Linked DNA regions of Homo sapiens: region 1 is linked to region 2. The links come from fine-mapping of genetic effects on gene expression. Tissue or cell type: whole blood. Region 2 holds a variant in brackets; the other region holds the start of a gene. All regions are shown on one strand. Distances are between the middles of the regions.

Region 1 (6,914 bases), 23 kb before region 2:
ACAGAATCAGTTTTTAAGGAAACATAGTGTCTCTTCCTCTAGGAGCTCATGATAAAGACTGGAATATACAGCATGCCAGAGTGGTATGCGTGGGTCAGGGACGGGCATTTTACAGAGGGCCCAGGGACGACCTGAAAAAGGAGGTGATTTGTGATTAAAGACCTGAAGCAGGGGAAGGAGGGAGCGCTGTGGACATCTGGGGAAAGAGCCCTCCAAGGGAAGGAATGACCCTGACAGGAACAGGCTGGGTGTGTGGGAGAAACAGTGTGATCAGAGCAGGGAGAAGGAGAGGCAGTAGGAGGAGATGAGGTCAGAGAGACAATTAGGGGACAAGATCATCTAGGGAAGGGGTTGGCACACTATAGCCCTGCCATCCATTTTTTAAAATAGTTTTATGAGAACCACAACCATGTCCTTTGGTTTACATATTGTCTATGGCTACTTTCAAACTACCCCAGTAGTGGTGAGTAGTTGTGACACGGACCATTTAGCCCACAAAGCCTAAAATATTTACTATCCAGCCCTGTACAGAAAAGGTTTACCAACCTCTGCCTTGAAGAAATAGGGGCTAATTTTTCTCCATGGTAGGGAGTCTGGAGTAGGCAGTGCAGGGTTGGTGCAGAAGCTCCATGATGTTAAGAAGGATCCAGACACCTTTGATCTTTATGCTCTGCCAGCCTCAGCATGCGGACATGTTGCTTTATGATCTCAACATGGCTGCCAGTGCTCCAGACATTACACATCATGTCCTCATTTGAGACAGGCAGGCAGGAGAGACATCTGTTCTTTCTACCAGAAAAGCAAAAGTTATCTTCACCATCCCTCAGATCTCTCCTCCCCCAGGACACCTTCCCCCATCTCTGCGTCCAGAAGTAGGTCGTATGGCCACTTCTAGCTTCACTGAAAAAAAGCTATGAAAAGGATTGTCAAGACTTAGACAGCTGTTTTGTTTTTTTTAACTGTAACCCACAGTAAGAAGCACACATAACTGAAACATAAACAATGCAAACAAAAAGTTCCACAAAACACAACTTATATTTACTATTTGTGCTGTACACTGGTATTTTCCCTTGCATTTTTGAAGTACTAGTCACATCATCAACTAAATTAATTTCATGACCCACTATTGGGTTGTAAGTAGAGTATGAAAAATACAAGTGGGCATGAGCCATAACTAGGGGCTGGCATGTTGCTGCTACAGACAAGTGGGTATTTCTCTCTCCTTTCCTTCCCTCCCTCCCTCTCTCTTTCCTCTCTTCCCCATTCCCTCTTTCCTCCCTCCCTCCTTCCTTCCCTCCTTTCCTTCCTTCCTTCCCTCCTTTCCTTCTTTCCTTCCTTCCTTCCGTCCTTCCTTCCTTCCTCCCTCCCTCTTTCCCTTTCTTCCTTCCTTCCTTCCTTTTTGTCCTTTTCCTTCTTTCCTATCTTTCTTTTTTCCAAAGAAGGAAATGGACATTGGCTGGCAACCAACAGTATCTGTAGCCTCCACCATAAGTGAGCTGGAGACCACACCCAGTTCTACTGAACCCTGAAAGAAAAGGTGACCCCTCCTTCTGAGGGGTCTGACAATGGACCCTCCCCTTCTGAGGGGAGGACGCTGACAATGGACACCTGTGTCTGATGTAAAATGCAAGCACTCACAGCCATAAAAGAGAATAAAATCGTGTCCTTTGCAGCAGGATGGATGTGGCTGGATGCCATTATCCTAAGCGAACTAATGCAGAAATAGAAAAGCAAACACCACATGTTCTCGCTTACAAGCAAAAGAGCTAAATATCGGGTTCACCTAGACATAAAGATAAAAACAATAGACACTGGGGACTTCAAAAGTGGGAGGGAGACAGCGGGGCGAGGGGTGAAAAACTTCCTATTGGGTACTATGCTCACCATCTGGGTGACAGGATCAATCCCAAACCTCAGTACCACACAATGTACAATTGTAACAAACCCGCACGTGTATCCCCTAAATTTAAAATAAAAATGGAAATTTTAAAAAATGCAAGCAGTAACACCAACTGCCCAGGAGTGCTGGGGGAATTGCATGGGATCCCCAATGTAAAGCACTAGCATAGTGTCTGAGCCCACAATGGGTGCACAGGACACATGGGGTTGCTGTCCCAAACCCAGTCCTCACTCAGAGCCAGTCATGGCCCTGTGAACAGCATTAATTAGGTCAGAGAGAATGATTCACACTCGAGTTCTGGAGAGCCCAGGGAAACTGTTATGTCACCCTGGTGCTATGTTTACTTCTCCTATCAGGAGTGATTAAATTCTTAGGATCTCATGCTCAGAGGTTGACAGTTATATTGAATTTTACCCACTTTTAAAAAACCTTTGGAAGCACCCGATTATTTGTCTCAGCTTTGATGAGGGCTGTGGAAGAGCAAATGTGTCATGACAAGTCACCAACCACAGGGAGCCTCAGAGCTGTCAAAGGATGGGCCATTCTCCAAAAATTCAAGCAAACGCAGAAACGGGAGGGCCCCTGGACTGGGTATCTTCAGTCCTGTCACTTTTTGCAGGTGGGGGTTCCAACATAAGTCATACAGCAGCCATACAAGCATTAGCACAGCCCCTCTAAGTCGAAGTTCAGGGACCCATGAGACTCAAATCCCAGGCTGATTTTGGTGCATATGGCCACCTGCACTTTCTAGAAGATCCATATCAGATTCTAAAATGGCCATGAGACCCTAAAAATATTAGGAAACGCACACTGAATGAAACTAAAATGATTTATGTTAGGGGTGGGAGAGAACAGGTCCAGAGGTCAGAGCTGGGAATCGTGAGGTAAAGCAGAAATTGCAAATGTTTTCCATCAACCCCATCCCCCACCTTGACACCCCCACACCCCAGAAACACTGAACTGTTCCCAGTTCCCCAAATGGCTTGTGGTTTTCTGTCCTCTCTGCCTCCGTGCTGGCAAATATTCGTCCAGGAGGCAGTGACTGGGAGAGAAAGACTAACTTCTTATTCACCAGATCGGATTTCTTAAACAATAAGGAGTTCTAAGAGGCCATGCCAAGCAAACGGCCAGACTGTACAAAGGTGCCCCTTGAGCAATAAATAGCAAATGCTCTGGGCTTTACTGATAAGCCTCCCCAGACTCCAAGCCCCACCAGGCATGCAGACAAGTGCCTGCAGTGATTGCAGCGCCTGCGCAGCGGCCCTTGTTGGAAGTCCAGGAGTCCGCGCTACCCCGCAAAGTCCCTGGCCGCTGCCCGCACACCGAACCTCTCGGGGCTGAGTCGGGCTGCTTTCTCCTCGCGTCCCGGGGCGCCCTCGGGAACTCGGGAGCGCGCGGCGAGCTGAACAATGGCCTGGGGACACCTGGCAGGTCGCAGGCCCCAAATCTTCCCCGCCGCCCCTAGGCCACCGCCCTGCACCCGGAACCTACCGGCGTTCCCAGAGCGGGGCGGACGGGGCGGTGCCATTGGCCGGTGCGGAGTGAGGGGCGTGCTCGGGGCGGGACGGAGAGACCGGGGCGGCACCTTTGGCCGTGCCGGGCGAGAGGCGGGGAGCGGGGCGGGGCGAGGGGCGAGGGGCGGGGCGAGGGGCGGGCCTGGCCCCGAGCAGCTGAAGCCTGGGGTCAGCAGGCGCTGCGGGCGCAGCTCCGGTGCAAGCGAGGACACGACACATGCAGTGGCTTCTGGACTGCGCGATGACTGGACGGTGAGTGATGAACGAGCAGGAGAGTGCTTGGGCGTCCATGGAGCATCCCCTCCGACCCAGGACTGCCACCAGGCAGGGACGCTGAAGCCTGGGCACTTGTGCCCTTCGGCCGCAGCGCGCAGGGTCCCTCCCCCGCCAGCCTGGCGCATTGCGGGCCTCGGGCTCATTGCTGAGAGGGGGCACTGCGCCTGGCACCTCTGTTAAGCAATTTAGGGGCTACAACCTGAGCAAGACAGATGAGCCCGGCCACTGGCTACACCTTTTTTGTTCACCTTGTCCTTAACCAGTTTCCTAGAAGCACTGATCCTAGAGTTGGGGAGAGAGCCTAGAGGCCTCTGGCACAACTCTGATTTCACTGATGGAAATCGAACGCCAAGATAATAGCAGCAGGGGGGGTCTGTCTCACAATCGCTGTCTGTAGAGGGCTCGCCTTGCTCTGGGCCAAGTGCTTTAACACGATATGCCTCTTACTCCTCACAGCAAGTGAGAGTCCTACTTTCGTTATCCCCTTTTCAGATGTGAAAACTGAGGCTTAAAGAGTTATAAAATTGTCCACCTTTACCGGATGAGTTGGTGATGGAGCCAGGATTTGAACCCAGGGCTTGTTGTGCCCCTGAGTCTCTTGCTCTTCACCCTTAGTCTCCGAAGGTCAGCCTGCCTGCTGCCCTGCTCTTCTGGGCTCCTGACTCCGGTCCCATCCTGCACTTCCCACTTCCAAAACATGCCTCAGTGTTTTCATTAACCTGGCACGGCGGAGGGAGGGAGGCCTCCTCTCACACCAGAATCAGTGCCCAGGCCAGGGCCAGCACTTTCTTAAAACACAGTAAGGACAGCTTCAGGAGCCCCATTTCACATAGGAATTAAATAAGGTCGCACAGCAAATAAGGGCTGGGCTTCTGGAATTTGAACCCAAGCAGGTTAGACTCCAAAGCTATGCTTTGCACTCACAGAGGAGCCCCTCGCTGGCTTTGCTGTAGTTTAACTGCCCACAGTACTAAGGTGTCAATCAGGATTTGTTGCCAGAAACCATTTTTTTTTAAGTTAGAAGTGAATTGGTGAAGTAACAGGTAAATGTAGACCATCCTGCCTTCTGTTCCTCTGTGTGGTTCCTTAGCTACTTCTGCCAGGACAGCAGGTTAGGGGAGAAGACAGGAAGGGAGAGGGTCAGAGGAGAAAGAGGAAGGGAGGGAAGAGGAGAGATGAAACTCATTAAACTTAGGTTAAAAAAATGCTGGCCGGAAATTGTCATGGGCTGTTTCAGCACTTTGTCAGTGTATGTGAAGGCTGTTGTCATTAGTTCTAGCCATAATTCTCTCAGTGTGTAGTGCTGGTGATTTGACAACAAAAAGGTTGATGCTACAGATTAAAGTGTCTGTCTGAAACTCAGGAGATTGGGTTGTATTTCCACCATGAAGCTCCAGTGGGTAGCCTGGAGGTCGAGAACAGAATCAAGGTCCAGGGTCGCCCTGGGTCAGGACCAAGTGGACCATGACAGATAACAAAGAACATGAACGAAACTTGGGTGTGTGTCAGAGTTCAGATTCTGGACGTGCAAAGCCTCAAAGGGGAGACCTAACTAGGGGATCTGCCAGAAAGCCCTCTGCCCTGGGCCCCTGGGGTCTGGGGCCTGGTTTCAGGTGTCAGCTCAGACTCTCTCCTCATTCATGGCCACTCCTGCAGGCAGGCCTCACATTCCCATCTCTGGGGCTCCACAGTCTCTCCAGAGCCCCCAACTCCCAGTGTCAATAAGAATAGTAATGGGAGCCTCTTTTCATTATGGGTGAGCCCAACACAAGGCCCATCTTACAGGTCTCCTCATTCGTCTTCACAGAAGTCATCGAGGATTATAGTTATTTAATTGATGAGGAGCCCAAGGTTCAGAGAGGGAACTGGACTTGCTTAAGGTAACAGAGCCAGGCAGTCACAGAGCAGAGCTTTAAACCCAGAGCCTTGCAAAGGCTAGGTGGTTATTCTCTCACAGAGTATGTTTGGGGAAATTGTTTTAAAATAAAGAAAATCAAATAAGAAGTGGCTGCACTTCCTAAAGCTTCAACAGTTTTCTTATTTTTGTAAAAGAGAAACTTGTAGTTCCCGGGGTCTCCTTTTCTGGCTGTCCCACCTTCTGCCCTAGGATATACTGTTGAGGAAGAGGCCCGGAACCCCCTCCCTTTGCCCTGCCTGACCTTGGGAAGCAGGGGTGGGGTGTCATTGAGCCCCATAGCTGCAGTGCTGGGAAGAGCCCTGAAGACTCTCTATCAGCTGCCACAACAGCTCTGGCTAAACTGATGCCCAAGAGACGGCGCAACACGCTAGGATCACAGGCCAAGTTAATGCCACAGCAAAACTCACATGCAAGGCTCTACAACGTTCCTCTGCCTCCTCTTTCTTGCTGTGACAGGTTTCAGCAGAGATTCTAAACCTAAGATCTGGGGATCTGGGAGTACATGGACAAGAGCTGTCTCATCTCCCTGCAGTGATATGCAAATTGTGTGTGTGTTTGCACGTGGATGCAGATTGCAACAACATGCACATACATGCATTTTCTGGGGAGAGTGCACTAAGCTTTCAAGAGACTCCAAAGGACTCTATGACCCAAAAGATTCTGGGACCCTTTTGTCTCACAGGGCCCTTATGTCCCCAGCAGTGACATGTGGCACACAGGCCTGGGGCAGTGGACAGCACAGGTGAGGGCAGCCGTAGAGAGCCTCCAGAGCAGCCCTGCAGCAGCAGGCACCCAGAGGGGTCTGCCCCTCTGCATTGCACTCCCAGCCCCAGGCAATCGGGATATTGGACAGTGCCCATTTTGAGCACGTTTGGCCCGAAAACCATAGCTAAGAAGATCTTTGTTTCTGTGGATCTTCTCTTCCATAGGCTAGAGGTGAGCCTGGTTGGTGGGGAAGTTGAGGAGTGGTTCAGGGGGTTCCAGGAGCAGAGAATGTATGTTTAAGGTGTAAGGGGGGAGCAGGAGGACTGGAAATGGTTTTCTTGTCCCAAATTGCTTTGCCTTGAAACAAGGGCAGAAGCCAGAAGTCTTGCCCACTGGGAAGGCTGGTCTGCGATCTACATGGCTGCTCAGGGCCAGGCTCTCAGAGGAAGGGGAGCTGTATCAGGGAGGCCTGGATGCTGGACTGGACTCAGAGAGACCTGTCAGTGAGAGGCCAGAACCGCAGCGGGGAGTAAAGGTGAGCTGGGCCTGTGTGGTCAGTCCAGGGCAAGGCGGGAGTGGAGGTGGAGGGGAGCTCTGTGCC
Region 2 (7,086 bases):
CTCTGTGTTACACCACCCCATCATGACTCCTGTGAAGTTGGGCCAGGTCCTTGGCAACTTTGATGAAAAATCAGCAGCACAGGACCCCAGTCTGGAGGCAGCTGAGGCTGGGTCCCTAGGCCTGCTCCTAGGAGAGACACACCCTGCTCGCAAGGGACCAAGGGCGGTCTGCGGGGTCTGACCCTGGTCTTCTTACACCCCAGATGGGGTGCTTTCGGAGGATTTGTTTGTTTACTTGTTCACCAGATATGAGGTGCTAGTGTGTGCTGTGAATGCACTAAGCACAGCAAACGTAGCAGCGGACAAAGGTGTGGCCCCCTGGAGCTCATATTCTAGTAAGGGAGGAGATCAAGCCAGAGATGAATGGGTGCTGTGATTCAGGCAACAGCAAGAACTGCCTGAAGGAAAGCAGCGCAGTGGCATGCTGTGGTGGGCTGCCGCCACAGGTACAGTGGTCAGGGGTGTCTTCCCTAAGAGCAGATATTGGAGCAGAAACCTGAAAAAAATGGGAAAATGCACATTCCAGGTGGCAGGGGCAGCACGTGCAAAGCCCCTGTGGTGAGGGCGCGCCGGACAGACATGCTCAGGGCACAGCAAGGGGCCTGCAGACTGGCCCATGTAGGAGGGGGTCAGTGGACCTTGGGGTGGATGCTGTGTTTCCCTCTAGGAGGGAGGGAAAGACTGCAGGGTTTGAACAAGGGCACTGCAGTCTGGCTTCTGCTTCAAAGGATCGCTGCAGCTGCTGGGACTGGGCTGGGGCTGGGGCTGGGGGGCTGCCAAGGAGCACCTGGGCAACATTAGAAAGCCACTGCATCTGTCCAGGAGTGACCATGCCAGCAAAGGAGGCTGCCAAGGATGAGAGAGGCAGCCCCTGGGAAGCTCCTGCACTCCCCAGACAGGCCACAGATCCTCTGCCCCAGCCACAGCCCCACCTGGAACACGCCTGCCTGTGCTGCAGGTGGGGGAGAAAGAGGAGTCTTGAGAGTTAGCCCAAGCCTGAGCTCTGAGTACTGGGCAGACCCCAGACTCCCTAGGCAAGCAAGAGGGACCGGCAGTCCCAAGTTCTTGAATTCTAGGTGGGAACTCCATGTGCACAAAGGCATCGGGGCAGGGAGTGCCTGAGACAGTGACCAGGATTTCAGTGGCACATGGCACTTCTCACCTTGCCCAAGCTCTTATATCTTTTGTAGACCCTTTGTCTAGTTCGCTGGCTCTTCTTTGAATTTATTAGCAATGAGCAGATTAGTCAAGAGACCAAAAGAGGGAGGGAGGCGGAGAATTCGCTGCTGGCTGACGGGGCTTTCCCTCCATTCAGATGCGGCCAAGCTGGGGGAGGGTGAACAGTGGGCGGCTATGCTGGGGGCACACACATCACCTGTGTAGGCATGTCTGGCCTGAGTCATGGAGAGCCAGCCTGTCCCCAGTACAGCCAAGCCCCCGACCTTGTCCAGGCAGGTCCTGAGGTCAGGGCCACCTGCTCAGCTTTCCTCCCTGTCCCCCTTCACTCGTCTTCCAGGGTGCAGTGCACAAGCACCTCCTCCAAGAAGCTCCATTGCATCTCCTTCTGCGTCCAAGCCCGAGCCCCTCGTGGCCAGGGCTGTGTCTGCTCCATCTTCCTCTGCCTGGCGTCCAGGGTGGGGCTGGAGGGCAGTGGGTCTCCATGAGTGAGCCATCCCCACAAGCTCTCTCCACTGAGAGGCACCCGAGACCAAGAGGCAAGAACAGAACCCCCCATAGACCTTTGAACTCCATAGATCCATGCTGGCCTCTCCTTCATAGGAAGCTCAGTGACACATCTGTGCTTGTAGAGCACCAGTGAGTATCAAAAACAGCTCTGGTTTCTGCTTGTTTGTTTTCCTTTTTAGCAGATAGTGCAAGGTCATATCTGGAAGCTGTGTGTATATTTGATAACCTTTGGATACACTATTTTCTCTGTGGATGGCAGGATGTTTGAACCTAGAAACCCCATTTCTAAGTTACCATGAAATCCACATTGTGCAGGGTCTTCCTGAGTGCTGCCAGGGATACAAAGAAGTTTCCATGGCGTCCCTGTTCTCACAGGGCTTTTAGTGCCAACGAGGAGAGAGAAATGGGATTTGTGAATCTAAAATATGGGTCAGAAATACTGCATGATTCCCTTATATAAGGAATCTAAAATAGGCTCATAGAGGCAGAGAGTGAAAATGGTGGTTGCAGGGACTGGGGCAGGGGAGGAGGAAGTGGAGAGTTGCTGTGCAGCTGATATAATGTTTCAGCTATGCAAGATGAGTAAGTCCTGGATATGGGCTGGACAACGTTGTGCCTACAGTGAACAATACAGTATTGTGCACTGAACAGTTTGTTTAGAGGGTAGTTCTTATGTTAAATGTCCTTATCACAATAAAACATAAATAATAAAATTAAATGTTGGTTGAGATGGCAATGAGAGAATGATATTCAAAGTTAATTGTGGGAAGACTAGTGTCAGAGCACATTAGGAGTGTGTAGTTTCGAGACTGCGGCTCTGGGTAGAGGGCAGC[T/C]GAGGTTGCTGGCAAGTATTCTGGCAAATGACTCAGCTTGGCCAGGCTTACACACAGAGTGACCGGGATTGGCACAGAGGCCTGGGGTGGTCTCGCAGAGACAGAGGCCTGGAATAGGTCAGAGGCACTGAATCAAGGGCCCAAGGGGTGCCAACCAGCACTACTAGCAAGGTGCGTGCAGAGGACTCTGTTGATTAGGGCCCCAGGTTGGCAGCAGGAGAGAAGCCATGTCACCTGCAGACCTAGGGAAACCGAGGGAGGTTGGGGACATGGGATGAAGGCTGTTGTAGAAATTCTGGTATGGGATATAGGGCTAGTGATGTCTAAGCAGTGGTGAGAAAAGCAAGACCCTTTGTCAGCCCTGGCAAGTGGACGCTGCTGCTGTTGGAAGGCACCGGGAGAAGGGTGAGGCTGAGACACAGCTAGGACAGAGAGTGCCCACTTCTCCTCTGGTGGGTGTGGGACCCTGCCGGGCCTGGTGGCCATAGGACCTGGTGGCGCAGGACCCCCTCCCAGGTGCAGTGTGGGCAGAGAGGTCCCCTGCTTGGCATGAGCAGACAGGCTGTGCGTCCCTGGAACCACTTCTTCACCGCGGTGTGGACGTGCCTGCCGGCCAGCAGCTGGCTTCCTGTGGGACACCTGACTCAGCCACTGTGTTCTGCGCTGTGCCCCTGGCCAGGCATGAGCTGAGCACATCTCAGGCTCCCTCCCACAGGGCCTGGTCACACGCCCCAGGGCACGTAGTGGCTGATGGTCCTTCCTGAGGGGATGGGGCCACTCAGGAGGAGGGATGTGCAAGGCCTGAGTGTTCAGAGCATCCCATCCCTAGGGGGCACAGGGAAGGTAGGCAGCTGCTCTGGGGGAAGGGCTGATGTGTGGACCCCCACAGGAAGAAGGGACTCTGATCATCGAGGGGCTCCTCAACATTGCCTGGGGGCTGAGGCGGCCCATCCGGCTGCAGATGCAGGATGACCGGGAGCAGGTGCACCTCCCCTCCACCTCATGGATGCCCAGACGGCCTAGCTGCCCTCTGTGAGTACCCGGTGGCTTCTGTGACACCTGCTCAGCCTGAGCTCCCGGGTTGGGGATATCCCGAGCCTCAGGGTGGGAGCCCTGTTCCCTTATGGGACACTGGCACAGGAGGGTGACCCAGCCTCATCCCCATGCCCTGTGACTGCCTCAGTCCACAGCCTCGCCCAGGGTGGCCTCTCCCTCCTTCCTGGAGAACATTCCAGGCTCCCATGACCTCTATTTCTGTTTCTCAAACCTTCCTGCAAGCCACCTTGCTGGCAAGAAGGGACGACTACAGCCAGGGGGGCTCCCAACACCTATGCAAGCCGAACATGTCTCGCCATCTCTTGTTCTATCTTTAAAATTCACACGAATTTAGCCTCTTACTACTCTGTTTTCATTTTAATGTCAAAATTTTAAAAATAAATTTATCAGAATTTCACATTACATTTGTTTAATATCAGAATAATGTTTCTGTCAGGAGGAAATGGTCTCCTGCCTGCCTTACCATTCAATGCACATTTATCTCCTCCTCGGCCCACTCCCAAAAGACGCAGTTAGTAGCTGGGCCTTGCCTGCTTCTGCAGTAGTAACTCCTGTAGAGGGCACACATTCAGAGCTTTGCCCCCTTCAGATTTCATATGAAACCCATGCTGTGACAGCACCCACCACCCTGACAGCCCCAGCACATACCTAGGTGTCCCCAGTCACTCAGCGAATTCTGAGGCACACAGAATTAGAGCATAAAGTCAGACTCCTTAGGAAGGCTGCAAGTGTGACTCACATGTGCCCCTCTTCGAGGTAAAGCACTCACAGACAGCAGTCGCGGCTGTGCCCGTGTATTCTCCAGGATCCCATCTGTCTTCTCTTCCCCAGGTCCCCTGGGCTACAGGGCTGTGCCCCATCATACCCACTCCTTCTCCAGCCCAGCACTAGCTACCCTGGCCTGGGGCTCATCCTGCCAAGAGGCCTGGAGGTTGGGCCCTTCTAGGTGGCCCCTGCCTGACACCCCACTAGGCCTTCGGGAAGCCCAGCGAGCCTGTTTGGCACACAGCTGCTGGCCTGGCTAAGCCTGGTGTCTAGGAATGCGCAGGCCCTGACTATGTTCATGTGTCCGTGTGTCTGTGCGATGCAGCCCAGCACAAGCCCTCAGGTCTGCAGGGCCAGGCTCACTCTCCGTCCAGCAGATGCTGGGGGGAGGCCTCTACTTTTCTTTTATTGTTTCAGACTGACTCTCTTGGTTTGAAATCCAGGCCTCACCTCAGCCTGCCTTGCTTCCCGCCTGTGTCCTACCCCAGGGGCTGCTGGTCTCTTCTCCTTGGCCTGAGCTCCCTTTCTCTGCCGGCAGCCATCTCAGCCCTGCAGTTGTCTGTTTTCAGAAAGGAGCCATCGCCCCAGAACGGGAACATCACAGCCCAGGGGCCAAGCATTCAGCCAGTGCACAAGGCTGAGAGTTCCACAGACAGCTCGGGTAAGCGGAGCCCGCAAGCTGCCCAGACCCCTGCCTCATCCGGGGTAGGAGCAGAGGGGCTTGGCTCACAACCACAATCTCCGAAGGACAGCTTTGTGCCCCAGCCAACGAGGGGCTTCACCTGCTGGACCCCTACCCAGGTGCCTGCCTGTGAGGTGCTCTGCCCTCATTCTCGCTCCTTTTTATGGAAAAGTGAGCAGAGGCTTGGGAGGTGACAGTGACAGTGTGGGGGTGGCCTGAGTCCCCCGCCCTGTGTGTGCTATGGGAAACAGGAGCATCCACAGAAGGCACTGCGCTCTCCTGGCCCCTCACCTCCCTCTGCGACCTCGTCCTCACCCTCTGTACCTGCTCACTCATCCTTTTTATTCCCCTTCCTTTAGCCCTCAGTGAAGGGCCTGTTTCAGAGCAGGGGCTCAGAAGACAGGGCTGGGGCCACCAAAGACCTCCATGGGCACCCTAAGACAGAGACCAAGAGGGGTATGGCCATGTGACATTGTGACCCAGGTTACCCTGTCTGGGTCTCACCTTCCTATCTGCAAGCTGGGAATATCCAGCCTCCAGTCCAGGAATGGCCCTCACGTCCCCATCTGCCCCAGTGCACGTGACCACAGGGCTCTAGGGTGCCAGATCTCCCGACAGCAGGCAGTTGCTCTGTCAGCATCACCCACCCTGCCATTCTCTCACCCATTTCTCATGCAGGGCCCCTGGAGGAGGCAGAGGAGGCCCCCCAGCTGATGCGGACCAAGAGCGACGCCAGTTGCATGAGCCAGAGGAGGCCCAAGTGCCGCGCCCCCGGTGAGGCCCAGCGCATCCGGCGACACCGGTTCTCTATCAACGGCCACTTCTACAATCATAAGGTGATGCCCCAGCCTGGCCTCTCCCCTGGGCGCATGGGGAGCCAGGCCTGAGCACAGGCACAGCAAGCACCATGACCTGTGTGGGGGCTGCTGGCATTCCTGTGCCCTCAGGAGGAAAAACCAGGTTGCATCCACATAACAGCCCCGTTTATGACCTAAGCATTTTCCAGCACATGCTCACTGTCAGTGCATCCTCACAAGTCACACAGAATTCTGGCAAGTAAGCTGGGGATGCCCTGGGCAGACAGTAACGCTGACCGTGTCTTCAATGAGGGCGCTTTCTAGGAGGCTTCCCCCCGAACTCGATTGGTTGATCCCTGGGAACACTGTGTATCCAGCCATCACTCTCACCGAATAATTAAGCAGGGGTGTGCCCAGGGCACATGTGTCTGTGCCCCAGAGAACCTGGACGACCCCAGATTCCCAGCACACAGCCTTTTGTCCAAGGATGCATTGTACTGACCTCAGGAAAAGCTTTCTTTCCCCAAATTACATCATTCTATAAACAAACTGAACTGTAGCAGGAGAAGTTGATTGTTACTGTAAATAGAATGATTGGCTGTCTGGGCAAGGCCCTGGATGGAGCGTCTTGTGACAGGCCATATCTTTCCCTCAGCACTGGGAAATGCAAGCCGAGATTTCCAGTTGAAGCAGCTGCCCTTCTTGATAGAGGATGACTTATGGCAGGGAGGGGGCTCAGGAGGAGGGTCTCAGGGTCCGATCTGAAGGAGCAGGTGTCCCAGGTTAGGCTATCCAGGGGCCATTCAAGCCACACTTAGGGTGCCCTGGACTTTGGAATGTCTACTTTGGAATTCTGCTGGGCAAGCTGAAGGGACCCTGCTTTAATCTCAGGATCTCCCTTCCACCCCCTGCTAGGCTTGTGGTGAGTGAATGAATGACAATAGGGTTGCCTTTGCTAAATCTGGAAAAATCCAGGACTATTCCAAAGTAGAGTCTCCTGAGAGAGTAAAGGGGACCCAGGATTGAAGTTAGGCAGAGATTAACAAAGGTGTAGATTAGCCCAAGGACACATGACATGACTTGAGTATTCTTTAAATCTTGTTCCAAAAGGGGTTTAGTGTGTAATGTGTTGGGTACCCATTGTTAGCATTCAAATAAATGTTGATATGCTAGTGTAAGGAATTATTCAAAAATTTTCCAAAATATGTGCGTGGGTTTAGGTATTTTCCAGTTCTATGTTCCTTACCAAAAAAAGGGTGGGGGCAGG

What was found. PIP is the estimated chance that this variant, and not a neighbour inherited with it, causes the effect.
Region 1: it holds the start of RASSF4, and the variant in region 2 is fine-mapped to the expression of RASSF4 in whole blood (INTERVAL, PIP 0.92).

Annotation. Positions count from the first base shown.
Region 1 is chr10:44,956,201-44,963,114 of GRCh38, forward strand. RASSF4 (Ras association domain family member 4) reads left to right here and starts at 3,602. Exons shown (of 11, transcript NM_032023.4): 1 at 3,602-3,666. It overlaps TMEM72-AS1 (TMEM72 antisense RNA 1), which reads right to left and starts at 3,489. Exons shown (of 8, transcript NR_033842.1): 1 at 3,392-3,489. RefSeq lists an enhancer at 3,281-3,575 and a silencer at 3,353-3,572.
Region 2 is chr10:44,979,113-44,986,198 of GRCh38, forward strand. It overlaps RASSF4 (Ras association domain family member 4), which reads left to right. Exons shown (of 11, transcript NM_032023.4): 4 at 3,409-3,551; 5 at 4,910-5,001; 6 at 5,701-5,858. Among named protein-coding and RNA genes, the nearest start is that of DEPP1, 3.8 kb to the left of the region's middle. RefSeq lists enhancers at 593-1,296, 1,297-1,998, 1,447-1,516, 4,790-5,290. The variant T/C (reference allele first, on the strand shown) is at 2,520.